Linked DNA regions of Homo sapiens. The protein of the gene in region 1 interacts with the protein of each later gene in a biochemical or structural test. Each region holds a gene or a part of one and is shown in the gene's direction. Other genes may lie near its edges. The genes, in order: MAP2K2, SHROOM2, RGS12, SIPA1L3, MAST4, PREX2 and PDLIM2.

What was found.
Region 2: the proteins of MAP2K2 (region 1) and SHROOM2 interact in a test that uses a peptide from one of them, tested with the Homo sapiens proteins (one large-scale study listed by IntAct).
Region 3: the proteins of MAP2K2 (region 1) and RGS12 interact in a test that uses a peptide from one of them, tested with the Homo sapiens proteins (one large-scale study listed by IntAct).
Region 4: the proteins of MAP2K2 (region 1) and SIPA1L3 interact in a test that uses a peptide from one of them, tested with the Homo sapiens proteins (one large-scale study listed by IntAct).
Region 5: the proteins of MAP2K2 (region 1) and MAST4 interact in a test that uses a peptide from one of them, tested with the Homo sapiens proteins (one large-scale study listed by IntAct).
Region 6: the proteins of MAP2K2 (region 1) and PREX2 interact in a test that uses a peptide from one of them, tested with the Homo sapiens proteins (one large-scale study listed by IntAct).
Region 7: the proteins of MAP2K2 (region 1) and PDLIM2 interact in a test that uses a peptide from one of them, tested with the Homo sapiens proteins (one large-scale study listed by IntAct).

The regions. Positions count from the first base shown.
Region 1 is NC_000019.10:4,099,851-4,103,833, reverse strand, and holds part of MAP2K2 (dual specificity mitogen-activated protein kinase kinase 2), read left to right. Parts: intron 1-627; exon of another isoform or gene 628-1,017; intron 1,018-1,380; coding exon 1,381-1,458; intron 1,459-2,553; coding exon 2,554-2,605; intron 2,606-2,690; coding exon 2,691-2,815; intron 2,816-3,983. UniProt on the Homo sapiens protein: Catalyzes the concomitant phosphorylation of a threonine and a tyrosine residue in a Thr-Glu-Tyr sequence located in MAP kinases. Activates the ERK1 and ERK2 MAP kinases.
Region 2 is NC_000023.11:9,784,725-9,789,352, forward strand, and holds the start of SHROOM2 (protein Shroom2), read left to right. Parts: upstream 1-1,704; 5' UTR 1,705-1,821; coding exon 1,822-1,986; intron 1,987-4,628. UniProt on the Homo sapiens protein: May be involved in endothelial cell morphology changes during cell spreading. In the retinal pigment epithelium, may regulate the biogenesis of melanosomes and promote their association with the apical cell surface by inducing gamma-tubulin redistribution.
Region 3 is NC_000004.12:3,320,107-3,324,089, forward strand, and holds part of RGS12 (regulator of G-protein signaling 12), read left to right. Parts: intron 1-3,818; exon of another isoform or gene 3,819-3,983. UniProt on the Homo sapiens protein: Regulates G protein-coupled receptor signaling cascades. Inhibits signal transduction by increasing the GTPase activity of G protein alpha subunits, thereby driving them into their inactive GDP-bound form.
Region 4 is NC_000019.10:37,905,750-37,910,240, forward strand, and holds the start of SIPA1L3 (signal-induced proliferation-associated 1-like protein 3), read left to right. Parts: upstream 1-1,458; 5' UTR 1,459-1,609; intron 1,610-4,491. Other genes in the region: WDR87 (WD repeat-containing protein 87), read right to left, coding at 834-934. UniProt on the Homo sapiens protein: Plays a critical role in epithelial cell morphogenesis, polarity, adhesion and cytoskeletal organization in the lens.
Region 5 is NC_000005.10:67,166,190-67,170,373, forward strand, and holds the end of MAST4 (microtubule-associated serine/threonine-protein kinase 4), read left to right. Parts: coding exon 1-862; 3' UTR 863-3,404; downstream 3,405-4,184.
Region 6 is NC_000008.11:68,231,169-68,235,151, forward strand, and holds part of PREX2 (phosphatidylinositol 3,4,5-trisphosphate-dependent Rac exchanger 2 protein), read left to right. Parts: intron 1-164; coding exon 165-210; 3' UTR 211-3,983. UniProt on the Homo sapiens protein: Functions as a RAC1 guanine nucleotide exchange factor (GEF), activating Rac proteins by exchanging bound GDP for free GTP.
Region 7 is NC_000008.11:22,583,091-22,587,073, forward strand, and holds part of PDLIM2 (PDZ and LIM domain protein 2), read left to right. Parts: intron 1-1,730; coding exon 1,731-1,800; intron 1,801-1,926; coding exon 1,927-2,072; intron 2,073-2,230; coding exon 2,231-2,309; intron 2,310-3,983. UniProt on the Homo sapiens protein: Probable adapter protein located at the actin cytoskeleton that promotes cell attachment. Necessary for the migratory capacity of epithelial cells. Overexpression enhances cell adhesion to collagen and fibronectin and suppresses anchorage independent growth.

The DNA.
Region 1 (3,983 bases):
CACCCTGTGTGTCTGCGTCTTCAGCCTGGAGCTGGTGGATGGAGTCACGTGTATGCTTTAGAGGTCTCAAAGCGTGTTGGGTTTTCTAGAACTGCCTTCGGCCTTTCTCTCCAAGCCTAGCTGGGCAGAAGTGGCCAGAGAGCGGCAACCCGGGCACCCCTGAGTCCCAGGATTTCTCCCCCGGCTCCTCCCACCCATGTGAATGAAAGCCATCCCAGGGAAGGCTGGGCTTTTGCAGGAGTCCTGGAGCAGCATGGTGGGGAAATCCAGGCTCCCCAGCCAGCCTCTCCAGGCTCCTCCAGCCCGCCCTCTCTAGCCTCAGTTCCACTTTCCTCTCTGCTGAGCACAGAAGAGACGCACGCCAGACGGTGGCAGTGGGAACTTGGCCTGTCACCCCTGCTGTCCTGGGGGTGGCCTGGCAGGTGTGTCCGGAGCCTCTGCCTCTGAAGAGGCACCTTGGGTGGCTCCCAGTGCCTGGGGTTTTGGCATTTGGGGGTTTTGGTCCCCAGGTTTGTTGCCAGGCAGCCTTGGGCAAGACATGGAATTTCTGTTTCATCATTTATGACATGGATGTGGGGCCACACCCGGGGACCAGCCTACCCATGATGACTCGTTTCCAGGCCCTCCGCAGGATGCCCGGCACAGTGGCGAGGAGACCACAGGCTGTGGGGAGGGGCCGAGGTTACCGTCACCTGGGCTGGCGTCACTGGGATCCCTCCTGCAGTCCATGCACCCCCTGGCCCCTGGTCCTACTCGGCCTGGCCTTTCTGCCCTAGGTGGCAGGGACAGGCGCAGGGCAGACGCCCAGCAGTGGAGCCGCAGGGCTTGGCGAGGGAGCCCCCTGGGGGTCTGGACGGGCACACAGCGACCCGCCGCCTCCTCCCACGCGGGGCAGCACCCGCGTCTCCTCCGCGCCCTCACCCTCCCCTTCCCTTCGTGTGCTGGGAAGAGGACGCAGGCCCAAGACGCTGGTCTCCAGCCTGGCCGCCTCCCGTGGCGCACAGACAAGCCCACCACGTAGGCTGCAGGGAGTGCGGGCCCCACAGCTGCCTGAGCCCCCGGCCGCGGCTTGGGCTGGCCCGGAGCAGAGCCTCTGCCGTGGCGACCTCAGGAGGGCCGAGTCACGCAACTGATTCGAGGATGGGACGGGAGGCGGGGGAACCCTGGGCCCTGTTCCTTCCCCACCTTGTGGGTGGGTGTTCAGACCCAAAGGCAGAACTGTCAGAAGACGCCCTGCCCTTGGCCCGTGGGTGGAGTTGGGCTCCGGCCCCTGCTTCCCGTCAGGAGGCAGACCACCCCCTCGCCGGGAGTGGGGGGACGCATCCGTGGCTTCCCGGCCACCTGCGCAGAGCCTGCACTCACTCCTTGTGTGCCCTCTAGGACGGCGGCTCCCTGGACCAGGTGCTGAAAGAGGCCAAGAGGATTCCCGAGGAGATCCTGGGGAAAGTCAGCATCGCGGTGAGTCCACCGCAGACCCACATCGCGCCCCCACCGCACTCTGCACGGACCTCTTCCACACGGCCAGGGTTCCGGGAGCCACTCACAGTGTGGTGGGGGTTAGGGTGGCCCCTGCAGAAAGAGAGTGGCCAAGGCTGTGCCCACCTGCTGTGGAGCTTGAACAAGTGACGTCCCTTTTGGGGCCTGAGGTCACCATCTGCCAAGTGAAGACGTTATAGGTCCCTCTTCACTCTTAGTATCCTCTGTTTGCCACACTGGTCCCCTCTGCCCCTCGTGGCAGGGGGATGTTGGCAGCTGGCACGTTGCAGGGGACAGGAGCTTGTTGAAAGGGAGACTCTGGGGTGGGATGTGGGACGCCAGGACCTCCAGACACACTCACCATTGCTGTTAGAAATGTCACCGGGGCCAAGGGCGTCTCTGCTGCCCGGTCTCCAGCACAGCTGCTCCGTAGAGCCGTGTGGTTTCAGCAGACCGTGCGTGTTGCTTCTTGGAGCTTGCACCTTGTCCATAGCAGGGGCCGAGTCCCGCCTGCCCATACCAGTGTTGGATTAAGACACAGGACGCATGCTGCCAGACACGCGTTTCCGAGTTGAAAGCTGCCGTCACACTGCCTGTGCTGCTTGCTTCACTTCTCGGGATGCTGCTTCCAGGGCGGGCCTGGGGGAAACATCGTCCTTCCCAGGCACCCTTAGCCCGTCCCATCTGGGGGCCCTTAGCACAGTCCCTGGGACCCCAGATGCTGCCTTTCAGGCTGATGTGGGCAAACTCGGCAGCCCAGCCTACTCCCGGGCCATGGGCCACCATCTCAGCTTCCCTGGGGCTAAGCCGTGTGCTCTGAATCAAAGGCAGTAGTGGCATCGGCGGCACTGCGGCCATGGGAACCGGGGTTGACTTGCACACGCCAGCACAGGGCTGTCAGCACTGTCTCGTCTCTGGCCTCGCTTGCTCCACCCCAGCGAGCTCCTCACAGCCTGAAATGGTTCCTGCCGCAGCTCCCTCGCTCCAGCTCTGACTGCTCAGCTCTGACCCCCGGGCTCGGTCAGGAGCTAAGCCCTGGTGGCCTTGTCCCGTGACTCCCTCCGCGCTCCCCTGCAGGTTCTCCGGGGCTTGGCGTACCTCCGAGAGAAGCACCAGATCATGCACCGAGGTAAGGCCCAGCCCGCCCTCCCCAGAGCCCCGGGGGCCGGCAGGCAACTGTTGGGCGCCCCTCACCCGCAGCCTGCCGCCTCCAGATGTGAAGCCCTCCAACATCCTCGTGAACTCTAGAGGGGAGATCAAGCTGTGTGACTTCGGGGTGAGCGGCCAGCTCATCGACTCCATGGCCAACTCCTTCGTGGGCACGCGCTCCTACATGGCTGTGAGTCCCCGCTGGCTCTCCCCTCCAGCTCTCCTCCCTGCTGCTCTCCCCCAAGCTCTCCCCACCCAGCTCTGCCAGCCAGCTCTCCCCCTCAGCTCTCACCCCCATGTCTCCTGCGCAGCTGTCCCTCCCAGTTCTCCTGCGCAGCTCTCCCCGCCTCCCACGAGGCTTTCCCAACTATTTCGTGGGCACACACTCCTACATGGCTGTTAGCACCCCCGGGACAGTCCCACCCCAGCTGCACCCTCCCCTTCATCAGCTCTCCCCACTTGCCACAAGGCACGTCTAAAGCTGGTGCCTCCTGGGAGCCTGCTTTTCGGATTCCCCTTGCTCTTTATTTTTTATTTGTTAATTTACTAATCTTTTGTAGACACGGGGTCTCGCTGTATTGCCCAGGCTGCTCATGAACTCCTGGACTCAAGTGACCTTCTTTCCTCAGCCTCCCAAAGTGCTGGGATTCCACTAGCAGTGAGCCTGAGCCACCACGCCCGGCCAGATCTCCCCTTCCTGTTGGAATTCTCTCTTAGGTTTTTGTCTCTAGCAGTGCCTACCAGGTTTCTTTCTTTTTTTTTTTTTTTTTTTTTTTTTTGAGACAGAGTCTTGCTCTGTCACCCAGGCTGGAGTGCAATGGCACAATCTTGGCTCATTGCAACCTCCGCCTCCCACCCGGGAGCAATTCTCCTGCCTCAGCCTTCCAAGCAGCTGGGGCTACAGGCATGTGCCACCACAGCTGGGTAATTTGGTTTTTGTTTTTGTTGTTGTTGTTGTTTTTTGAGACACAGTCTCACACTCTCACCCAGGCTGGAGTGCAGTGGCGCCATCTCCGCTCACTGCAAGCTCCGCCTCCCGGATTCACACCATTCTCCTGCCTCAGCCTCCCGAGTAGCTGGGACTACAGGCGCTCGCCACCACGCCCGGCTAATTTTTTGTGTTTTTAGTAGAGACAGGGTTTCACCATGTCAGCCAGGATGGTCTCAATCTGACCTTGTGATCCGCCCGCCTCGGCCTCCCAAAGTGCTGGGATTACAGGCGTGAGCCACCGTGCCCGGCAGCCTTGGCTAACTTTTAAAAAAATGTTTTTAGTAGAGATGGGGTCTCGCCATATTGGCTAGCCTAGTCTTAACTCCTGGGCTTCCACCTCAACCTCCCAAAGTGCTGGGATTACAGG
Region 2 (4,628 bases), on another chromosome or scaffold:
TACAGCACAATGTCACAACCTGGAATATGGACATTGATACAATCCACCAAGCCTTTTCAGATTTCCCGTTTCACGTGCATTTAGTTCTGTGCAATTTAGCTTAATCAACTTGGCAGCTCCTGTGACCATCACCACAGTGAAGATACACTCGACTTGATTCTGAGAGGCACATTCCTTAAGCCTTCGTTTAATCTTTGAAAAAGAAAAAATCGCCTCATTCTTCTAACTAAAGGCATTCAGAGACTGTAGTTAGAAGTTAATTATGGGGCAGTCACCACGTGCCCAGCGCCATGACAGGTGCCCAGTGGAGCTGCGACTCTGAATTTAATCGGCTGCATGAGACACCTCCACAGAATGCACCCCTCTCACTTGACCTCTGAAGAAACAGACCAGAGCTGAGATTTCTTGTCCCAGCTTGACAGTGGCAGAACCCAGACCCGGGGACCCTTGACTCTCTGTCCAGTGCTCTCCCGGCCTGTCCTGGATGCGTACTCCAGCATCGTCACCTCTGAAAAGGGCCTGGATGGAGCTGCTTAGAGAAAAGAGGTGTTCACCAGCCTTCAGCTACGTATAGAAACAGCAACGAAAACAGCTTTTTTGCAAAGCATGTAAATACCTATCCATGCAGGTACTTTAGACCAGAGTTTCATGGAAACTGAAACCGAGCAGGAAGAGGTGGCACACATGTTGTCCGCAAACTTTCACCAATCCCAGACCTCCACCTCCCCTTTTCGGGGATGTAAACCTGGGAAACTTGAAGACCTTGTGGTCCAATCCTAGGCGAGTGGGGACAGCATCTAGACGCAACGGCTTTCTGCGCGGTGGCTGTGGGAGGCCTCTGCGGGAAGGTGGGAAGGCCCTCGTGGAAACGGGGCACGGTCCTTCTGCGCCCGCCTTCCAAGCCCCTCCAGAGGCCGGACCCGCGCCCGGCTCAGGCTGCTGGGGGGCGCCCTTCCCGGCTCTCTAAGTCCAGAGTGTGAGTGCGCGCAGGGCCGCGCGGGACGGGCGGTCCCTCTGCCCCGGGGCAGCGGCCACAGCGCGGGCACCAGGGCCTCCCGCGGCGCTTCCGCTCTCACCTGCGCGGCAGCCCGCGGTGCGCGAGAACAAAGTGTGGGCGCCGGCGGGCCGCGCGCCCCGAGACGGAGGAGGCCGGAGACTCCCGCCACGCCACCCCGCGCCCATCTCACCTGCCGCCTCACCTGCCCGGTCCTGGCCTCCAACCGGCGGGCGGGGGCGCCCAGAGCTTCGAAGCACTGCAGAGCTCTGGCGCGGGAGGAAAGGCCCGACCTGGCGCCGGGGCCTCCGCCCCCGTCCTCGCCCGCGCTGGCTCCGCCAGCCCCGGGGCGCGCGCTCCTCGACCCCGACCCCGAACCCGCTGAACGGCGCGCGCGCCTGAGCGCCCCTCCCGGCCCGCTCCCCTCCACCGGGCGAGAGAACCGGGGCGCGCCCCTCTCCAGCTCTCCCCGGTACGAGCGGCCGCGTGGGCCCCTGAGCGCGCACCTGACCCCGTCCCTCACCCTTCGGGCCGCGGGCTGGACCTCTGGACGCGCTCCCCGTGACCGGCCCCGCGGTACGAGCTCCCGAACGCGCCCGCCCCGCCCCCCGTCGGCCCCGCCCCCTCCCCGCCAGCCCCGGCCCCGGCCCCGGCCCCGGCCCCGCCCCCTCCCCGCCAGCCCTCCGGGCTCCCTCCGCCGCCGGGCCGGCACTTTCTTTCCAAGTTACGGCGCAAGTTCTGCGGCGCTCGGAGCCTCCCTTGCGATCCCACGGCCGGGACTGCCCGGAGTGCATGGGCGCGGGCCAGGGACGCTGAGCGGTCGCGCCATGGAGGGCGCCGAGCCCCGCGCGCGGCCCGAGCGCCTGGCCGAGGCCGAGACGCGGGCGGCGGACGGCGGGCGCCTGGTGGAGGTGCAGCTGAGCGGCGGCGCCCCGTGGGGCTTCACCCTGAAGGGCGGCCGCGAGCACGGCGAGCCGCTGGTCATCACCAAGGTAAGGCGGCCGCGGGGCGCGGGCGCTGACAGCCGGGAGCTGGCCGCCCTGCGGGGCGCGTCGAGGTAGGGGCGCGGGAGGGGCGGTAGGCTCGCGCCCCCGGGTCTGGCGCGCGCGTCTGCTGGGGTCACCTGCCGGGCCTGGGCGCCGGGACCGGCGTGGGCGTGTGATCCTGGCGGTTCCCCGCGCCTCGCAGAGTTTAAATGGCTCCTGCCCGGAGTCCCTTTCCCCTCCCCCTCCCTCCTCCGGGCAGGGGCCTGGCCGGGTCCTCTGGCGCTCCCGGGCCCGCCAGTGGCGGCCTGCACCTGCGGGGCTGCCTGGAGGCCAGCGAAGGAACGTGTCCCCGAGCCGTCCCCACCTATGTTTGCCTCTCTGGGGTCCCTGGTTCGGCACCCCTTGGACCCGTGCCTGTGATCACTACGAAATCCAGAGTAGCAGCTGTCGCCAGCGCAACTTCTCGATTCCCTTCAGCCCATCAATGTTTACTGACTTTCGGCTTCCAGTCCCAGATCCACTGCGCACTGGATACCTGCGCAAACTTAGAGAAACCTGAAAGCCTGCTTCCTAAGAGCAGGACCCGAGTTCTAATAATAATAAAGAAATTCCAGATGTATCTCATCAGGAATGTTGTGTGTGTGTGTGTGGTTTGCTTTAGAACATTGAATTTTATTGTCTCAAAACAAAATCCATCTGGAAACTTACCAGTTGAACCTGTATGAACTTGTAAAAGCAAACACATAAACAACAGTCCAGTCACCCTGTGTTCTAGTTAAAAGTGTGTAGTGGTCATTTTCTCTGGGAAGGGTTGAGTCGGACCTTTCGTGTGGACGAAGTTCCTTTTAAAATGTAAAGATTCTTGGCGACTAGAAGCGTTTGAAGATAATTTACTGGTTTTCTCGGCTTTCCTGCCTCTCCACAGCAGGAAGAAATTAAGTGATTCCTAACCCGCCGCACTGGTAATCAGTTTGGGAAGTGGGATGGCTTTGTTGTTCAAATAGCAAATGAGACACCAGCGTCTTCCATTCTATATTTTCTGTCGCTTTTATGATTACAAAACTTTGTGGAGGGATTTGGAGAAGCCTTGTTTAGCTTTGCACTAAATTTTTGTTGAACTCAGGAAAGAGGTTGCCATTGTTATAAATTTGACCAATGTGTAATCTTTTATCACACTGGCTTCTTTGGAAACATGGTGGACAGTCATAAAGTGTGTATACTCTGCCCAGCCAGAACACTCCTCTTTTTTTTTTCTTTTATTTCTTTTCTTTTCTTTCTTTCTTTCTTCTTTTTTTTTTTTGAGACAGGGTCTTGTTCTGTCAGCCTCCTGAGTAGCTGGGACCACAGATGTGCGCCACCATGCCTGGTTAATTTTTTAAAATTTTTTGTAGAAACGGGGAGTTTCACCATTTTGCCCAGGCTGGTCTCGAACTCCTCTGCCTCCCAAAGTCCTGGCATTACAGGCATGAGCCACTGCGCTTGGCTCAGAATGTGGATTAATCCAAGCTTTGAATCTTCCTCTCCCAAAAGCTACTGAAAAGTCACTGGGGCTCATTAAAAAATAGCTCTTCTAATCGTTTTTTTTTTTCCACTTGTAATTAAATAGTTACATATTAGAGCCCTGGAATACTGTACAACTCACTTGCTATTTAGCAGACTCTGATTTGGGGATAGCTTGCATTAAGGTAAGAGCGCACCTTCTCTTTATGATAATGAGGGTATCATTTGAAAGCCTCATGGGAGTGCGTGTAGTAGAACTGGGAGGGGTGTCAAGAACAAGGCTGGTTCGGTCCTGGTCTTCAGATGGAATTTTATCAGCCCATTTTATAGATGAAACAGCTGTGGCCCAGGCAGGGCAAATGGTGTATCCTGAGGTCACAAACTGTTGAGTCCTGGGAAAGGCCCTAAGAATCAGACTCTGGCCCCAGTGTTCAAGCCTGCTGCTCCCCTTCAGTCAGTGCCATCTGCTTGGGTCTGGGATCTCCTGCAATGCCATATTGAATACCTTCGTCACATCGGTTAGGTGAGGGTTTGCCAGCCTTGGCATTGGGGACTTTGTGAGCTGAATCTCTTTGCTGTGGGGCTGCCCTGTGCTTTGGAGGATGCTCAGCAGCCTCCCCAGCCTCTACCTGCTTGATGCTACTGTCACCTCTCTCCAGGTGTGATGACAAAAATGTCTCCAGACATTGCCAAATGTCCTCTGGGGGCAAAATTAGCCTGGTTTTGAATCTCTTTTGTTAGATTAACCATATATCACCTTTGCTCTTAAAGGATTCTTGCTCTTAAAACTTCTGTTTCTTTTTGAATAGACTGGCCTTTAGGGTGGTGTGTTTAGAGGCCTCTGGCATTGCCAGTGTTTGCATGGAGAGCTGTTTTCCTCCCACGCGTTGGCCCTGAGAATAGGCTTTATTTACATAGTCAAACTCAAACAAATACTTGCTTCATCTGCATTTTTTGTAGCTGGAGAAAGGAAATTGAAGCAGGAACTCCCAAGTGCTGTGTTTTATGGGCATCCACAGTGGCTGTTCAGAATCAGGACTGACTACTCTCTGGGTCTAGTTTGAAGCTAAAGGGATACCAACTTCAGAGGAGTAGCATTCTTGGAATTTGGGGTGCATGCATGAAGCCCAGCAGAACCTCCGCTGACA
Region 3 (3,983 bases), on another chromosome or scaffold:
ACAGGGCACCTTCACCTGCTTTCTCCTTGAAATTCAAAGTGACCTGGACAGTGGGGAGTATGATGCCATTTTAGATAATTGGCAGTGGTGCTTATGGTCCTCAGCGGACCTGAGAGACAGATAATGCTGTCGTCCCCATCCCACCAGTGAATGGACTCCTCCTTGGGGCGGGTGACATGGGGGAATAGGTGGGGTTGTGATGCCAGCCTTGGGCTTCTTTGCAGTGAAGATGAGGGTCCTGGCTGTTCCCACCCACACTGGAGCAGAGCAGAAGGGGAGCTAGCATGTCCTCAGGGTTGGAAATAACGGTGTGGCGGTCACTGCTTTGCAGAGTGCATCCTTACCTTGATAGGAATCCTGAGGCCATCAGGCCAGGCGATTGAGGTTTGGCTGTCAGGTGACTTGCTCACAGTCACAGGGCATGTGAGTGCTGGGACCAAGACAGCCCTGGCGCTCCGTGTGGGATTTGGAGTGGCCTTCATAATGTGGCGTGATACACTATCTAAAAATAAACAGGTAGTAACGTGTTGTGTTTTATGGGTTCCTGCTGTAATCTCTTGAGGTTTAAGTGTTGCTGTTTACTTTGCCAAGTGGGCCTCCCTGTGTAGTTAGGTGAGTCTGATCCCATAGCCTCCCCAGTTAGAGCAGCAGAAGCTTCCAGGGGTCATGAGGCGGCCACAAGATGGGTCCGGACGTCGCCGTGGACAGGTCTGCAGAGTTTCGAAGGTGGCCGTGACCGTCCGCAGCGATCAGGGCCCCACCTGGACGCTGGCCTGTGCTGAGAGAAGGGGCCAGCAGGGATGCAGGAAGTGCCTGGAAGTTAGAAGAAGCAGCAGAGTTGGCACAGGGAGGGAGAGAGCAGAGGAGGCCCCTGGAGGGTGCCATGGTGTCAGGCAGCGAGCTTCACGTGACTCCGGATTCTTAGTGACGGGGACTTCAGGGCTTTACTTTGCACAAACTCAGGTGGAATCAGTCAGGATCCAGCCAGGAGACAGGAAACGCAGCAGTAATTTGAACAGGAAAAATTCAGTATACAGAATCGTTAACAAAGGAAAAGAAGGTTAGCTGCTGAAAGAGAAAAGAAAGGCTAAGGTCATCAGTGTGGAAAGGGGCTGAGTCTAGAAAAGTGGGCGTGGGAGGCTTAGATACCCAGAGTAGGGGCCTTATCTGACAGGACTGTGAGTCCATCGCAGCTGTGAGAGAGTGAAGCAGCTCCAGGTGAGGATTGGTGGCTGTCCCCAGTCCCCAGGAAAAACGATGTGGGACCCTCACATGCCAGTCCACCCCACTCCATCTGGGAGGCAGTGCCTGTGCCCATTGCTGAACATTGAGCCCCTGGGCAGGAGCCATGTGGTCTTCAAGGCCCAGTGCCAGGATCAGAAGCTGGGCACGGCAGGGTGGGTTTGGCGCTGAGAAGAAATGCCTTGGTGTCTGGCACAGTGCCCCGTTAGGCTACCCAGCGTCTGTATGCACCCTTCTTCAGCACCCCCAAGGGCATCTCACTCCCAGCTTCTGCTTTTGAGTCCGCCTTGGCTTGCCTGCACCCCAGGGCAGGGTTTTCTGTGGCTGTGGAGCAGCTCCGGCCTGGACAGCCACGTCAGCTCCTCCCCCCAGTGGACTGCAGGCATGTGGTGTCCAGCGCGCTCTGAGGCCCAGGCCTGGGCAGGGGCCCCTGCTGACGGTGTCCTTGGCTTAGGCACTCGCCCTTAGCCCTAGAACAATCTTCAGCATTCCCTCTACACAGTTATTACTAGTTCTATGAATGTTAAACGTTCCCTTTGAAATTACTGGCACCAGCCTTTCTTAATCTGTATGCAAAATAAGCTGACTATTAGAAGAAATATAATACTGCATCTAGTCACAAGTTGGTCTCTAAGGCCAATAGTTCTGTGTCCTAACTGCCACCAGATTCTCCATTGTTGTCCTTTGCCAACGCTTTTGTCACTGCCGCCTCCATCCTGCTGTCTGCAGGCTCAGCCCGGGTTTCCGCCCTCAGTGGCCACTTGCTCCTGTGAAAGCCTGGGGACCAGCGAGCCAGACCCCTTGTTGCTCGGCATTTCTACGTCTCCTTGGTGAGATGGAAAGCTCTAACCCCCTGCACACCGAGCCACGTGGTGACCTTGTGCCAGCTCATCCTTGTCAGCTTCTCCCTCCTCTGGGGAGGAGCAAGGAAGGGGAGCTGAGTTACTTGTAGACTCGCTGAGGGTCTGAAATTCTTGAAGTGGGTGAGATGATGTTTGGAAGTGGACTGCTTTCCCTTTTGTGTAGTTTGCTCTTTGTCTCTGCCTAATGTCTGTAGCCAGCACAAGCTGGTTCTCATGGAGATAAGCATTCAGGCCTGTGACTAACAAAAGGGGCTGATGTGAAAGAGAACCCAGGATCTCGAAATGCTTCTGTCATCAAAAATGATTGCCTTGTGTTTCATTTAAGGCAAGCGTGTTTAATTCTGTGTCTCTGCAAACTGACTCAAAGTTATATTAATTAATTAAATTAATTAATTAAAATACCTGGTTAAGTAGCAGCACCCAAATTCTTAAAATTTCCATACAATGGATTTTGGAAATTTTAAAAATGAAAATATGTTATTTGTGATATGTAAAGGATTGATTGGTGTAATTTTGAAATGAATGAATACATATTTTTAAATTCCTCAGTTTAATTTCTGGTATGAGAAACATCAGTAGCTGAAACCCACAAAAATAAAGACTCGCTGAGGTGCTCAGTCGTTTGTAGGTACTCCCAGGAGTCCTGAGACCACAGCACTTGAGGACTGCTGCCCGCAGAAGGTTGGATTTGCAGGAGTGAGTTCCTTCTCAACTGTTGCTTACTGAGATAAGACCATTAACAGAGAATGGAGAAATACCTTATGGGTGTACTGGAGTACCCGAGAGCTACATCTGAGTGAGATAGTGGTACCTGCATCACCTGAAGTACATCTGAAAATCGCGCTCATAAAAAAGGCAAAATACAGAAGCCTCAAGCCCGTGAGCAGCGCAGTCTGCTGTCCAGGGTGGCGCGTGCCCCTCGGTGGGAGGACAAGCCAGGGGCGAGCGGGAGGACGAGCAAGCACCAGGCTGGGGGGCCTCTCCCGGGAGGGGTGCCGTGGCGCCTCGCTCGTGTTGGTGCAGTTTTATTTCTTGCGGTGCAGTGTGTTGGTGGGTGCTCATCATCTCATTCTCCACCATTTGTTCATGACGACATACCCAAAGGTACAATCACAGACACAATGCGAACAGCACTGTAAGAGTCAGAGCCTTAGATGCTGCTGCTGCCTCTGCCCCGCTCCGCGCGGGGAGCTGCAGTTCAGAGTTCGCTTCCTTTCATGGACTTACTCTGTTTGCACAGGCTCTTGGATATTCTCTTCCTTTTCCTTCCCTTTATTGAAAATACATGTGACATACTGCTGTGAGTTACTTTTTTCTAAAACAAATTTCTCATGTACATAGTTATATATCAATTTTAAAAACTCTTCTTCATTGTAGTGGCCACGTGGTATTATGTCATATGCCTGTGCCATTTCTTACTGAATCAGTCCCCAGTTGATGGCAACCTTAGACTGTTTCTATATTTAATAATAAGCTGGATTGCAGTAAAAATTCTTAAAGTTCTATCTTTGTATATATGTGAGTTTTCTTTTGGGTAGGTTCCTAGATGTGGAATTGCTGTTTTTAAAAGTGTATGTGCATTTTAAAGTTTGCCAAATTGCTCACCAAAGAGGTTTTCTAGTTTATATTTTTGTCAGTAGTGTGTGTGTGTGTGTGTGTGTGAGAGAGAGAGAGAGAGAGAGAGAGAGAGAGAGAGAATGCCCCCTTTTTTATTGAAGGAGAATTTGTGTTATTTTGATGTACAGAAAACTCAACAGTGTTCATTTCACCCAGTTTATTGGCAGGTTCTGTGGCCTTTGCCTTTTCCAGCTTGGCAACGTGAGCCACAGATTTTGGTCCCAGAGCTAGCTTTCCCAGCGATGGCAGATCTTGTCATAT
Region 4 (4,491 bases), about 34 Mb from region 1:
TTGCTATGTTACCCGGCCAGTCTCCAACTCCTGGCCTTAAGTGATCCTCCTGCCTCGGTGGCTCAAAGTGCAGGGTATATTTCTCTTAGCTAGTATTGCTCTACATTGTTGTAGTCTGGTGGTGGCCTGATATCCCTACTGGACTGAAAACTCCCTGAAGGTAGGAGTCCAGTCTGTCTGGATTTCTCTTGTGTCTCCATAATCACCCAACCTGACATGGAATAGGTGGTTAATCCATTTTTGTTGAATGAGTGGAAAAATGTGCTCTCCCAGGAAGAAACATATGCTTCCCAGCTTCAAGTGTTAGTGAACATCTTCCTAGAAGGCAGGCTGAGGCGGAAAGGGTATTGACTCCGGCTTCTCCACCAGAGGACCTTGCAATTCCAGTCAATTCCCTCGGTAACTCTTATGGAGGAGTGGCAATATACCTTAAAAAAGGAGTGTGTGTTGCGGGGTATTCCGCTGCTTGGTTATGTCACCAGGTGGATTAAATTTGGACAAAATTTCCCAAGGTGTAGGTACTCTACAAACACTAGTTACCCTCAGGAATGTGCGATCAACAAAAGAATGCAAGATAACAAGGCCCCTAGGCAGCCCCTGGGTCTTGTGGCTCCCGTCGAAGGCAGAGCTCTGGAGCCGCCTACGCCGGGGACAGGCGACTACACCTGGGGCCCCTCACCCTCGGGCCTCCTGCACGTGGCAGGGAAGGCAGGGCGTCTCTATCTCAAAGCATTGGCTGCGCCTGTTACCTGCGACAGGATTCCCGACAAGGGACGGGTACGGCGTGTGCACTCAGGAGCTCCTAGAGCTAGGGGCAGCAACTAAGAAGCTACCTGGCGGATGTTGCGAGAGGACTCCGCCCACAGAACGGTTGGCCCCCAACCCCGCAGCCGGCGGACTTCCCGAGGCCAGGGGTCTGAACGCGCGTGCGCATGGGCGCGCGCCCGGCGCGAGAACGCGCGCGCGCTCTCGAAAGAAAAAAAAAAAAAATCCTCTCCGCGGGGTCCCGCGGCAATTTAGGCCGGGGTCTGCCGACGACCGCGCGTGCGCGGGCGTGCATCTACGCCCTCCTCCACCGCCCCCTCCGCTGGGGGTCTAGCGCACTGCTCCGCTTCCCCCGTTTCCCCCGGGCTAGCGTCCTAGGGGTAAGTGACTCGAGCCTGGCAGAGAGTGAGGGAGAGGTTCCGCCGAATGAAGGGAGGAGGTAGACGGGGCCAGGAGAAAGGAGAAACCGCCCCGGCGGGGCGAAGAGCGCGGCTCTCGAGCTGTAGTCTGCAGGAGACACACCTCCCTCCCTCACGCCCCTCGGGGCTGCGGAAGTGCTCTACAGACTGGAGCTGCACGAAGGCGACCAGCGGACTACCGTTCCTAGGAGGCAGCGCGGCGGTGCGCCTACGGCTCCCGGCAGCCCCCGCGCGCCATTCTCTTTTTGAGTTCGCGGCCGGCTAGGGCGAAACTACAGTTCCCAGGAGGACTCGCGCGAAGCGGCTTGGAAGTGGGCAGCCTGGAAGTCACTCGGGCCACCGGAGCTGGCGGCGTCTCCAGCGAGCGGCGCGGAGCTGGACGCCGCGATCGTGGGGCCCGCGAGGCGGGCAGCCGGGGCGTCCAGGTACGTGGCTCCGGGTGCAGGATCGGCCTCGCGCAAGGGTGGCGGGGAATCGGTGGCTGCCCGGACCCCGAGGGTCAGCGCGGGCGGACGGCCGGGTGTGGGTACTGGCCGTGGGGGGCGGCGGCGCCGGGACTCGCGCCCTCCGGACCCAGCCGGACTCGTGCCCGCATGGCTCAACTTTCCAGGCGTGCACCCCGGCGCTGTGGTGAAGAGCTTGGAGGCGGGGAGCGGTGGATTCGCGTCCCGGCTGTGCCACTCGGGAGCCGCGATCTGGGAAAACCGCGCCGAACCTCAATTTCCCCTGCAGTAAAACGGAGTAGGAGAGCATCTTGGCGGAGACTCTGTTGAGATAATATAATAAAACATTTGGCACATAGGAGGCACTTACTACGTATTTGGGTTATTGTTAGCTCTCCGAAAAATGAGGTGAAGATGTTATCGATTGCATAGGGTGAGGATTAGTTGAGCGTGTGCATGTAAAGAGGTGAGTCCTTAGTTAGCACCCAATGCAGGCTAGCTGCTGTTAACCGAGATTATTTTGTTAAGAGCGTTGGTTTGGAAGGCAGAGAGACCCCAGGTTCAAATTTGAACATTTACCAGCTGTGTGACTTTGGGCAACTGGCTTCACCTCTCTGTGCCTTGGTTTCCCTATCTATAAAATGGGGATTTAAATAGCAACCACTTCGTCGAGTTGTTTTCAGGATGCAGTGAGAATACCATGTGTAAAGTGCTTAGCACAGCAGCTGGCATATAACGCTCAGTAAATGGTACCATTTATTCAGCGTTTTCCTAGTGGCCCAGAGACCCTCTGAGGGTGGGGCTCTGGCCGTAGTATTGGTCACCCCCGAGGGCCAGATTCAGAACTGGTCCAGTTGACTTCCCTTCCTACTACCTCAGGTTCCTCATTTACAAAATGGGATAATAACAAGATCACTCTCAAAGGGTTGTAAGGATTTGCTGAGATTGTATTTCTAGTCCAGCGCCATCTCTCACTAAGTAGCAGCTCTTATGTATTATAATTGTTCTTCAATATTCTCCATCTGGCCCAGAGACTGCCTGACTGTGGGCTGTGACATGACAGCCCTGAGCTCCCCCACACATTTGCTCCCATCCTCAGTGTCCCATCTGTGGAATGGTAGTCATAGGACTTTTGTGCCAGGATTGTTTGGATGGTTCCAGGAGATAATTCATGTTTAGTGCTTTGCACAAGGCCCGGCACACAGTAAGTGCTTATTAAATGATTAAATGTATCTTGCTGTTTTTTTTTTTAATAGGCCCTTTTTGCTTCTGTTTGTACCTACATGGCAGAGTGAGCACAAAGTTAGTGTTTTTTTATCTTCCCCCTCCCTCCCAAATTTTACTTACCAAAGATTAAATTATGGAACACACTATAGTAGAAAGGCCTAAGAAGAAATGGGTCTGACCTGCCATCAGCAGTCCCCTGCTCACACACCCCTCCCCACAGAGCCAGTATGTTCACTCCAGTGCTTTAATTATTGTCCTGGTGCTGCCAGCTTTTGCCTTTGTGTCCCAAAGCCACTGAGTCCCCTGCACTCCAGCTCCAGATGTGGAGCCTGTGCTTCTTTGATGCTGTGGCTCAAAGAAGTGGCTGTTTCTTGGGCACCATAAACTCAGCATGTCCAACCTGAACTCCTTCTCCTCCTGGAACCAGTAGTCACCATCTTGGCAAATGTGCCAGCATTGACCTGGTTGCCTAAGCCAGAAACCTGGGAGTTGCTCTTCTTCCCCAGCCTTCCCATATCCAGTCAACTAGCAAGAAGGACGAAGCTGCCATTTCATAGAAACACCATTTCATTGGCCCATATTGGTCTCCCATCTGATGGGCACTGAAAGTTCCCCTCAGCTTGAGACGGAGTCTTGCTCCATAGCCCAGGCTGGAGTGCAGTGGCACAATCTCAGCTCACTGAAGCCTCCGTCTCCCGGGTTCAAGCAATTCTCCTGCCTCAGCCTCCTGAGTAGCTGGGATTACAGGTGCCCGCCACCACACGTGGTTAGTTTTTTTTTTTTTAGTAGAGATGGGGTTTTCACCATGTTGGCCAGGCTGGTCTTGAACTCCTGACCTCAGGTGATCTACCCATTTTGGCCTCCCAAAGTGCTGGGATTGTAGGGCATGAACCACCGCGCCTGGCTGTGACAAGGTTAAGTCAAGTCATTAGGGATTAACATACGTAAACCTATGTAACATATGTATTAATAAGGGCAAGAAGATGTTATAGACTTGGCTAGACAGCAGTGGCTGTGGATGTGGCATGAAAGCCTGGCTTTCAGGGGACCCAGTTCTGTGATTTTAGCCTGGTAAAGATCGGCTGAGTTGTTAATTTCTTTCAGAAAAGTTAGATGGTGTCAGCGGCTTAGAATATCCCGTGTGGGAGGGTGGCCATCCTGGGCATTTCAGGAGGCAGCACACATACCACACACCCAAGAAGAGGCTGGGAAGGGAATTTATTAGCGCTCCCCTTAGGTTGAGTTTATTGTCAGAAACCTGTCATTGTGATTTCATTTGATGATAGAAACCGGTGGCCTCAATCACATTTGTGATGGCCAACAAATTTACCTAAGCATTTTGCTAACCTGAAGAAGTAAAGCAGTGGCTTAAAAAAAAAAAAAAAAAAGCAGCACGTGGCTTTTTAGCAGTCAGTGTAGAATGAATGATCTAAGAGTTAAATGTGAGTCTGTGTTTCAGACATTGCAGTTGTTAGGTGGTAAATCAAAAGTGGAATTTAGAATGTGCAGTGATTGGTGCCTCATTTTTTTGCTGTAAAATATATTTTACTGATATATTTCAAACATAGTCTTAGTAACTTGTAAAATGTAAATTAAATGTATTTACATTTTAATAAAAGAATTCAATAATCATTTCC
Region 5 (4,184 bases), on another chromosome or scaffold:
CACTGTGAAAGATTGCCCCACCCTGTGCAAACAGACAGACAACAGACAGACAGACAAAAGCCCGAGTCAGCCGGCCGCCAACACCGACAGAAGGGCGGAAGGGAAGAAATGCACTGAAGCACTTTATGCTCCAGCAGAGGGCGACAAGCTCGAGGCCGGCCTTTCCTTTGTGCATAGCGAGAACCGGTTGAAAGGCGCGGAGCGGCCAGCCGCGGGGGTGGGGAAGGGCTTCCCTGAGGCCAGAGGGAAAGGGCCCGGTCCCCAGAAGCCACCGACGGAGGCAGACAAGCCCAATGGCATGAAACGGTCCCCCTCAGCCACTGGGCAGAGTTCTTTCCGATCCACGGCCCTCCCGGAAAAGTCTCTGAGCTGCTCCTCCAGCTTCCCTGAAACCAGGGCCGGAGTTAGAGAGGCCTCTGCAGCCAGCAGCGACACCTCTTCTGCCAAGGCCGCCGGGGGCATGCTGGAGCTTCCAGCCCCCAGCAACAGGGACCATAGGAAGGCTCAGCCTGCCGGGGAGGGCCGAACCCACATGACAAAGAGTGACTCCCTGCCCTCCTTCCGGGTCTCCACCCTGCCTCTGGAGTCACACCACCCCGACCCAAACACCATGGGCGGGGCCAGCCACCGGGACAGGGCTCTCTCGGTGACTGCCACCGTAGGGGAAACCAAAGGGAAGGACCCTGCCCCAGCCCAGCCTCCCCCAGCTAGGAAACAGAACGTGGGCAGAGACGTGACCAAGCCATCCCCAGCCCCAAACACTGACCGCCCCATCTCTCTTTCTAATGAGAAGGACTTTGTGGTACGGCAGAGGCGGGGGAAAGAGAGTTTGCGTAGCAGCCCTCACAAAAAGGCCTTGTAACGGGGAGGGCCCAGGGGCAGGACTGTGGAGACCCGTCCTGAACGGGCGACTGTGTCTTGACTACCTTTCAAAACCAGCACTGTGTGGGAATGTCCGCCAGGCAGAGCTCGGAGCCTCATTGAGACAGGGGAGAGAGAAAGACAAAGAGGGGACCTTCTTCCAGATGCCTTCCCAGTTGTAACCGGTAAAACTGTTACCAGATAGTGTTTGTACAAAAAAAAAAAAAAAAAAAAAAAAAAAAATTACCTTTACAGTTGAGGGTTGTTGAGGAAAATGATTTTCTTTGTAAATATATAGCATCGTGTTTGGTTTGGGATGTAGAGTCTATACCTGGCTGCTGATTGCGTCGTTTACTACAGCTTTTTTTAAATAAGATTTTTGCTTTACCATTTATCATAATGTAGTAATGAAGCAAAATGGTCAAAACTGGGTGTGTGTGAACAGAGATACACCCATATTCGTGTATATACACATCCACCTACATGTTTTGGTCTGTGGTTTAAGAGACTATTTCAAGGTTCCATTTTTATAAGCTAAAACATTCTAAGTTAAGATGGAAGAAAGCCCTAAACACAGTAGATTCTGAGTTTTTATGTGTATTTTAACCAGAGTTTCTGATAGTACTGTATCTGGCTACCTATATTTCCAGATCTAAAGCAAGAACTACTCTAAGTACTGCATTTGGAATCCTCCTCCATTAGGAATGGCCAGGACAAGTGGAGCTAGCCATTTTCATTACACGGCCATCCCAATGGACACTGGATCCCTGGTCCAACTGTCTAAAAGGCCAGTTGTTCCTTTCTGTGGATGTGGATGTCTGGCCTTCACCTGAGGTAGAGCGGGGACTATAAACACACATCAACTTTCTTTCTGTTTGCTTTCTTTTCCTTCTTTTCAAACTCTTAAACTCAGGCCTTTATGCTGTGAGTGACTAGTCCAAGAAGCACACATTTTGTAGTAGTCCTGCACCAGCCCTGCTCTTGAATAAAAAGGAAAATTACTGGCTGCACCCAAATCTTCTAGTACTTGAGTAATAAGCATCAGGCATTGGAAGAGGTTTTAAATTTGCTTTTTTGAGGAAAAGAACTGGGGGTGGATTTTGGCATCGTAGCATATCGATTAAAGAATAATCAGGACATCAGATACATTTTAATACATAGCTGGGGCCTTATGTTGTAGATGAAGCTTGCTGTTTTTAGCAAGTTCCTGGGTTTCACATTCATTTCTGCTGCATCTAGTAGCTCCACACATTTCATAACCTGATCTCTTTATTTGTATGCAAAAAATACTGTCTTAATACAGAGCAGCATTTTTGTAACAAAGAGACTCGCTGGAGCTATTTGGTGCTTGAATGTGACCATCCTTTTTACTTTTGCTAAGCCTTATTTAAATTTTGTATACCGTGGAATATGTAGAATTTGTCAAATCATTTTAGTGCTGAAGGTTTTTGATTTCTTGTTTTTGTTTCTGTTGTTGCAGTTTCTTTGGTGGCTTGTTTTGTATTGTAAGATGGCACTTGCTGATATAAATACTAAGGCACTAAGAGAAAATACAGATAAGTATTTATAAGTTGCTTGGGAACCATAGCAGAATTTTTTGTTTGGTTTTGTAAGAGAAAAAAAATTACCAATAAATAACTGATCTAGCACCCAAACTCTCTTGGGGGATGTCTTAGTATCTTCACGCTATAAAATTGTTCATCTAAGCACAGCATCATCTTATGGCCTTATGGATTGTAAATCTTCTAGTGAGGCTATAAACTCCACTCTGAAAACAAAGGCATAACTTAACCGACTGCTCAGTTGTCCTTCGTTGTAAAATGAATTGGCTTTGGGAAAAAGGAAAAAAACAAACAAAAAAAGAAAAAGAAAAAAGCCTCCTCCTTGCCCCTAATTTTTTTTTCCCATATGGTTTTAGCCATTCCCCATCACTATATTGTGAAGCTGTAAAAATATATATATATACTTTACAAGAGTTTACTAATGGATTTCAAAACTGGTCTCAACGTTTATAATACATATCTGTGTTTGGCAGTTGTCATAACCCAATCCTACATTCAGCCATCGGGACAAGTCTGTCGGGGAGGTAGTTCATGGTTTACAAGCCTTTGCTTTTTAACTGTCCAATTTCCTTTAAAGCACAACTAGCTATTTGTTTACAAATGATATTTTTATGTATATTTTGTATAGTGTATCATCATTTTTGCCAAATATGTTTTTCATTATAAATGAGTAAAGAGTACTTAAGGTTGCATTCATGTATTACATGTTTGTTGTTGTAAACCTCTCCAATCAGCTGGTAGAAATTCTCCTCATTGTGTTCTATTTGGTCAGTCTCTGTGTGATTGTAGGATGTGCTCCTTGGTAGTACTCCCAGCTGTAGATTTACCAGCTTAAAAGTTTGTTAGGATCTGTGCAATAAAGTGTTTGCAGTCTTATTTTCTCTAAGAAATTCCTTATGGACGTCATAATTGTTGTATATTGAACAAAATATTTATACTTATGCAGTTGCATAACATTGAAATAAAAATTTAGCATGAAAAGATAATGACTCGTAAGTTTTTTTCTAATATACTCATATGCATTCCACCTCCAAAAAATATTACTGATTATTACTCTGGTATTATGGAAAGGATAGGTTTTTACAGATTACTTTTTGCTGAGTGGAACAGTTTGCCTTTTTTTCTTAAAAATGTACACAAATATTCTTCAACATTAAGTCCTTTAGCTGGGCATAGTGGTGCTCACCTGTAGTCCTAGCTATTTGGGAGTCTTAAGGCAGGAAGATGGCTTCAGCTAGGAATTGGAGACCAACCTGGGCAACATAGACCCTATCTCTACAAAAACTTGAAAAGTTAGCTGGGTGTGGTGGTGTACGCCTATTGTCCCAACTACTCAGGAGGCTGAGGTAGGAGAATTACTTAAACCCATAAGTTCAAGGCTGCAGTGAACAAGCTATAATTGTGCCATTGCATTCCAGCCTGGGCAACAGAGTGAGACCCTATCTCCAAAAAAAAGAAAAAAAAAAAAGATTAAGTCCTCTTTTAACTTCTTCCTATTTTTTTCTACCAACCTTTTTCCTTGCCTGCAGAACTTACCAACTTCTACACTCACACTCACCATCTTCCCACACTCAGGGGGTCTTGATTCTCCTTTCTCTGTGACACCACCACCACCTCCTCTCATTCTCTCACGAACTTGCTCCATCAATTACCATAGTCTGCCTCAGCATTCTCTTTTTCCTCCCCAACTGTCTCTTTCCTTTCAGAAAACCCTTTCTTTACCTGGCCTTTTCCCTCTGTCCCTTCTCAGGTGACATCCTA
Region 6 (3,983 bases), on another chromosome or scaffold:
TTTTGGAGTTTGCCAATTCATATGTTATTTTTAGTGAAATAGACAATCCGATCATGACTCACGAAACAAGAAATTATCATCAATGTATTTGTTCTACCAATAAAGACACCTCATGTAATGGTAATACACTAAGTCACTGTCAAACTTTACCATGCCTTTTCTAGGCTGTACAAGCTGTGCGAGCCACCTCCCCCAGCTGGAGAAGAATGAAAAGAACTCCCAAGAAACCAGGCAGGCAGAAGCTCCTGAATGCTGGACTAGACAAACTACATGCTGGCTAAACATTCTCCACTGAAGATACATCAATGCTTTTTTTTTTTTTTTTTTCTGTAAATCTTTCTTCCCATTGCAAACAAGTAGTGATCAGTTTATACTTTGATATTTATGCTGGAAATGGATAGAAGTTCAATCAGACAGTTCAGCTTCACGAACTGATGTCTCTCTGTATTGACATTAAGTATTCACTTTTAGAGTAAAATCCATCCCTGGGACATAAAGAAAAAAATATTAGAGATTTAAAAATTAACCACCATGCCTCCTCTCCCATTCATTAAAATGGTTTTATTATGCTTGTTTTCATCTTTCCCAAGTGGACACATGTAATAATGGAGAGTTCCTCTTGAAGAAGGCCATTATTGAAGAAACCTGGCGACATCTTGCAAATCATCATGAGAAATGTTAAGGACAATATAGACTGTGTGCTATACATTTTCAGTCCCCCATTTGCAAGAGAGAAAGTCATTAATGTGTAAAAGGTGGAAAAGCATGCTTTACTCTTTCTCCTAAGGGCTTATTTCTTATTAGAGGAGAAGAAAGCTGACTAAGGCCTCCAGCAGGACTCACTTTCTTCTAGCTGCCTTTGGGCATCCTTTATTCTTGTGGACAGCTCTAGCAAATCAATGCTATTTTTGGTGTCTGCAATGGGCATGGCTTCCTTGGGCCATGAATACTGGGTGCTGTGCCATAATGGCCCTGGGGATCAGGGAAGTGCCCTGGGGATCAGGGAGGGGAACCAGGATGAAGAAGGGGACTGTAAGCCTATTTTAAAACTAAACCTTTAAGTTAGATACCTAAAACTCTTAATTTTATGAAGGCTCTCATATGAGAGGTCAGACTCTTCAAAGAATACACCATCATGAGAATTTTTCTGTTAAGATATATGTATAAGATATGAAAATAAGGCTTTATTTGTACTTTAAAAGGACCATTAGGGGACTTGTAATTTATGGATGCACAAGGTGTATTCTATCCTTATTCTAAAGTATATGTAATGTTTATCATTTCTACATTGATGCAATAACATTGTTTTTAGCATAGTAAATACAGTAATATTTATTTTAAATCCATAATTTTCAAACAAAACACTCATGATTGTGATAATTATATGGGTTTACACTAATTTAGTATGTGAAATGCTTTTCATATCTAAATTATGTGCAAACTATTATTAATTTTTTTTTTATTTTTTGAAACTGAGTCTCACTCTGTTACCCAGACTGGAGTGCGGTGGTGCAATCTTGGCTCACTGCAACCTCCACCTCCTGGGTTCAAGCCATTCTCTTGCCTCAGCCTCCCAGGAGCTGGGACTACAGGTGTGCACCACCATGCTCAGCTAATTTTTGTATTTTTAGTAGAGACGTGTTTTCACCATGTTGGCCAGGCTGGTCTTGAACTCCTGACATCAAGTGATCCACCCACCTCAGCCTCCCAAAGTGCTAGGATTACAGGCGTGAGCCGCTGCTCCCGGCCCATTATTAAATTTTAATTTATGAAATTTGATCATGGTTTTCAAACTATTATTAAAACCTTTATCATTAACCATTATGTATTGAATAACAAAAATACCATGTTACATGTGTAGGCAATATGTGTATACTACTAGGTAAGGTAATAATAATTGTTATTTGGCACAGAAGCTCTAGAGACTTTTGTGAGAAGTCCATATACAATGAAAAACAAGGAACCTAACATCAGAGTTTTCAAGAAAAAGTTGAACATTTTGAATTTAATAAAGATATCTTTACAAAAATAACCTTCAAGGATTTAACATTTGTAGGACTAATAAAGGAACACAGCTGATTAGCTAGCAAGTCCTTTCATATTGTCATGACTGTTTTCTCATCACCATCCTGGAAGCAGTAATCCTCATTAGAGGCATGCAAGGGTCATTAAAATGATTTCAGTTGTACTTTGCCATATTTCATGGGGCAAATTATCAGCTATATTGTGGTATTTATAAGCTAACATATTTTATATTTTTAAGGATCTACTTTCTTCATAATAGAATGTGCTTCATATTATTTTTAGGGTTAAACATAAGTGTGTCGTCTATCATGCTTGGTACTTACTAAATGCTCAAAAATTAGTAATGGTTTATATTAACATCAGTCACTCTAACTTCTGATCGTAATAAAAATTGTAGCTAACACTTATTAAGGGATTACTACATGCCCAGTAATACCTCCAAATGCTTTGCCTGTATTCTGTTGTTATTGCTTCACTTAATCCTCATAATAATGACGTGACATGGTACTCTTTTTATCGCGCCCATTTTTAGAGTTGAGGAACCAAAGCAAAGAATAACCCAGTGACTTGCACAAAGTCACATGATTGACAAGGGGTAGAACCAAAATTTGAACCCAGGAAGTCTGCCTTCTTAATGCATTATGCTACTTTTCCTTATCAATATAAGAACTATTGTAATATTACGATGATTTGTAAGTAAATTTGGAGTTATGCGGCATGTGTTGTCATTAAATTATACATCTTGTATTAAAAAACGGTGAATGGAAATATGTAAATGCTTTAATTATATGAAAATTATAGTGTTTCCTGGACATTTTACAACTCTGGATGCACATTTTGAGGTAACTCAACAGTGTTGCAATCTGAAAAACTATTTTGTATCATGTTCCTCCTCATCAAAAATAACAGTTTTAGATAGTACATCTCATACAACTTTATTATAATTCCAACACAGTGGTAAGAGTAAAAAACATACCTAATGGATGAATGAATAATGACAATTTTTTCAATGCCATATGTACCTCCATGTGACATTGGGCATTAAATGGCCTTGAGGTTTTAGGATGTGTTTACCTTAATGCTACATGCTCCTCTATAACCAGTGCACCTTCAAATACTGCTAAAACCTGCTAACTTCTTCCAGGTTCTGAGCATGGACAACTCCCACCGCCCCCCAACCTAAAAGGGAAGGTCATGCATAGAAAGTTTGGATTTTAACTTAGAGCCTGACTCAAAAATAATTGTGAACTAAAAATTCATAGTCAATACTTTTTAAGCATTCTATTATCTCCTATAATTTTTTCTAATATTAATTCCAAATATTACAAAATTTAATGTGATATTAAAGTATGAAAAATTTGAGAAGATTAGAATTTTACATGTATTTCCATTCCTATTTAAAGAGAGAAAATGGGGAGATAATTTCTGTGCTAGTTTTACTTATATTGGATATATAATATTGAATTTATAGTATAAGCTTTATTTTATCAGTTCGCAAATCTGAAGTCTCATACTGTTTTCTGTCTCTTTAAAACACATTCTTCTGGTGGCTTGGGTTCATTGTGCATTCATTGGCCACTCTTCTTGCAGCAAATTTTAAATCAATTTAAAATTAGGTAAACTTTTTATGATACTATAATATATATGACGTTGAAATGACATTGGTTCTGAGTCTATTAATTTAAATTTTGGGATCATTACATTCAGAATGAAATGAAATTGACCTTGATACTAACTTTGAGAGCCAAAAAAATGAATGGGTAAACAAAGCCTAAGGGTCATGTTAATTAATTTAACAAAACACACTATTTTCAGTCCTTTGGGCTTGTACATTTTATAGACAAAATTAGCATTTATTGATTTGGAAGTGTTCAATTGAGAGTAAATGACTCTGTGTTTTGAAACTAATACCTTTGCATTTAAAATACTGAAGTATTATTTTGTTAGTTGAAGTAGAT
Region 7 (3,983 bases), on another chromosome or scaffold:
CTCACGGCCAGGAATGTGTGGCAAGATGGGACGAGGCAGGCTGTCCCTCAGCCCAGACTTCAGTTACCTCCCATTCAGGGCTCCAGCTGGGTTCCACTTTGGAAGAGGGTACCCAGGGAGCTGGGAGGGCGTGCCCCTCTCGCTGGTGGGGAGCTGGGCCTACTTGTCTGGAAGGAGGCAGGCGGGTCTCGCCCTTTGTTTAACTGGGGAGACCCCTGAGAAAGGGATCAGGAGTGACGCGCTCAAAGGCACCCTGGCCTCCAGTGGGCAGGGTGCACAGCTGGCCCAGTCACCGTGGGCTCTAGAACTTGAGGCAGCTCACTTTCCCTCTCTGGGTTTCAGTTTCTCCATGGGTTAAAATATAAAGGATTATTTCTATGAAATCAGTAATCAGGCCGGGCGCAGTGGCTCACACCTGTAATTTCAGCATTTTGGGAGGCCGAGTCGGGCGGATCACCTGAGGTCAGGAGTTCAAGACCAGCCTGGCCAATACGGCGAAACCCCGTCTCTACTGAAAATACAAAAATTAGCCGGGCATGCTAGTGGGCACCTGTAGTCCCAGCTACCTGGGGGGCTGAGGCAGGGAGAATTGCTTGAACCCAGGAGGTGGAGGTTGCAGTGAGCCGAGATTGCACCACTGCGCTCCAGCCTGGGTGACAGAGCGAGACTCCATCTCAAAAAACAAAAAAATCAGTAATCTTCCCCCAAATCAATCTACAAACCCGAGGCTGAGTGATATCAGTGACAAAGTCCAGGCAAAATAGAAAAAAAAAAAAAAAAAAAAAAAAAAAAAAGGGCAGGATAATGTGAGGACTCTCTAATAAAACTGAATGTTTGAACTTTCTGATGAAGTTATGTACGTTCTACTTTTTAGAACCAAACTATCCTTTCTTTTTTTGGGGTGGGTTTTGCTGTTGTTACTGTCGTTTGAGATGGAGTCTCACTCTGTCGCCCAGCCTGGAGTGCAGTGGTACAATTTTGGCTCACTGTAACCTCTGCCTCCCTGGGTCAAGCAATTCTCCTGCCTCAGCCTCCCAAGTAGCTGGTGTTACAGGCATGCGTCACTATGGCTTGGCTAAATTTTTTTTTTTTTTTTTTTAATTAGAGATGGGGTTTCACCTTGTTGATGACCAGGCTGGTCTGGAACTCCTAACTTCAAGAGATTCACCCTCCTTGGCCTCCCAAAGTGCTGGGATTACAGGCGTGAGCCACCGTGCCCGGCCTTGGTGTTTTTTTGAGACAGAATCTCGCTGTGTTGCCCAGGCTGGAAGGCAGTGGCACAATCACGGCTCACTACAACCTCCATCTCCTGGGCTCAAGCGATCCTCCCACCTCAACCTCCCAAGTAGCTGGGACTACCGGCATGCACCACCATGTGCAGCTACTTAAAAAAAAATTTTAGTAGTCATGAGGTCTTCCTATGTTGCCCAGGCTGGTCTTGAACTCTTGGGCTCAAGTGATCCTCCTGCCTTGGCTTCCCAAAGCGTTGGGATGATAGGCGTGGGTCAATGTGCCTGGCCAACTGTCCTTTCTTTTAAGGAACCATGGTTGTCATTGATGATAGTTGTTTGTCTTGAGTTTGACAAAGTTAAAAGTTGACAACCGGATGTCCAAATTTTCTGTAGCTTTTACTGGTGTTGAGAACTAGATCTGGGAACAGTTTTGGCCTCTTTTGGGGGTTGCAGGGTGCAGGGCCCCTGTGACATTCCCTCCCTCTGTTGCCTTCTCAGGTCTCAGGCTACGTCTCCAGGGCAGACCAATGGGGACAGCTCCTTGGAAGTGCTGGCGACTCGCTTCCAGGTAAGCTGGTGCCCTCCCCTGACAGCCTCAGCACCCTGATCACTGGTGCATGAAAGTGAGGCCCGAGGGCAGGGCGGCCTTGGCGGGGCAGCCCTGCCTTTCCTGACACAGTCACTCTCTCCACAGGGCTCCGTGAGGACATACACTGAGAGTCAGTCCTCCTTAAGGTCCTCCTACTCCAGCCCAACCTCCCTCAGCCCGAGGGCCGGCAGCCCCTTCTCACCACCACCCTCTAGCAGCTCCCTCACTGGAGAGGCAGCCATCAGCCGCAGGTGAGTGTGCCTGTGAGTGGGTACCCTGGTCGCCTGCGCTGCCAGCTCCAGGCTGGCTCCTCTGAGTCTCAGGAGCTCTGCTTGGGAGCCCGGGGCAGCATCCTCCCTGGGCAGGCTGGGGGTGGCCCTGGCACACACTGTCCCTTTCCCACTTTCAGCTTCCAGAGTCTGGCATGTTCCCCGGGCCTCCCCGCTGCTGACCGCCTGTCCTACTCAGGCCGCCCTGGAAGCCGACAGGTGAGGCTCCCTGGGGGAGGACAGGCTGGAGGAACAGAAGCACCTCCCGTTCCTGTGGGTTGCCAGTGCCCCGGGACTGCAGGCGGCCAGGCCCACCTGGGCAGCCATGGCCTCCTTCTCCTGGCCACAGGCATGCTCTGCTCCTGAGCCAGGGAGGCCATGCTTCTGGTCGTGGGCCACCTGTGCTGTGCCCAAGACCTGCCCAGCAGTGCCCAGTAGCCCGTCCATCTCCTGCACCCCTCCCCTCATCCCCCTCCCCTCCCATCCTGCTGACTTCCTCCCTGCCCAGTATGTTTCTCTTGGGCTGTGGCTGAAATAGTTTCGCTGCTGTTGTTGGGATGATTCCCTTTCGTCTCTGGCTGCATCTCTCGAACACATTCCTCCCCATTCCAAGACCCGGGCCTGCCTGACTCCCACCCACACCCTCCCTTCCTCCTCTGACTCAGCCCAGAGATGCCCCAGTGGGACTGCGGTTCTGCCTTGAGCGCTCTTGGCTTATTCTGTCTCCTCCTCCCCCTACCCCCGCCAGCTCCCCTGGACTCTCTTTCAGCCAGGTCCCAGTGGCCCCTGGTGACAGCCTAACCCCCTTCCTGGGTGGTATTTCTCCTCTTCAACGGTGGGGGATGGTGAGGGAGTGAGGCAGCCAACAGCCCTGGGCCGCAGCTGCTGGGGACGGCGTGGGGGGCACGTCCAGCCTTTGGGGTGATGGGGATATGGCCCAGCTGCTGAGCCCTACCTTTGGGTTGATTCTGCATTCCAGAAAGCAGAGCCTTTGGGGGTGGCCAGGGAGGGCACTAGAACCCAGAGGCTCTGGAGGAGGAAGGAGCAGGATCTTTCTGGGGGCCTTCCGAACAGCGGCTGCCTAGTGACCCGCTGCGTGCCCACCCAGAGGCCAGCCTGGCACTGTGGCCATAGAGATATATTCCATGGGTCCCCTTGTTAAGGAATTGAAGATGCAGTTGTAGAGATAAGGCAAACTTGCAAAACAATTTTGGAGCAATTAGGCACTAAGCAGTGTGGTATTAATTACAAAAGCAGGAGGCGTTCTGGGAGGGGAGGGGAAGGAAGGCTGTGTGAGGAGTATTGCTGGACGTTAGAGGTGGTGGTGAGAGGGTTTAGGGAAGGATGAGCAGGAGGCCCGACATGCTGGGAGATGGAGAAACACTGGTCCGGGCGACGGCTGATGTATTGGGGCTGGGGGATTTTTTAGGGGGAACCTTTGTTCTGAGATGAGCCAGGAATGAGCTTGTTTCAAGAGGGCTGGTCAGTGTCAGTCCTGGCTCTGTTCCGCGACACCTCTGGTGGGCTGTGGTCTCAGCAGGACCCACGTGCTCAAGGGCAAGCCTTCCCGAGCTTCCCCATCGTGTTGCCCCCAGTCCAGGAAAATGAAGGGTGTGGGAGGTACAGAGGCATGGCTCCCAAACCAGCGGCAACACCTGAGAACTTGTTGGAAATGCAACTTCCCAGGCTCCAGCCTACACCCGCTGAATTGGGCATGGGGCTTGTGGGTCACGAGCCCAGAGCTGGGTGTGGGGAGACTCACTTGGGTCGGTCCCACCTCTGCCTGACGACTTGGACCAGCCCCCCTTCCTCTCCCTGGGCCTCAGGTCAGACTAGACGCTCTGAGTTCCCTTCTCTGACCTTGATGACTCTGCTCATTCCTTCGGCAAATAT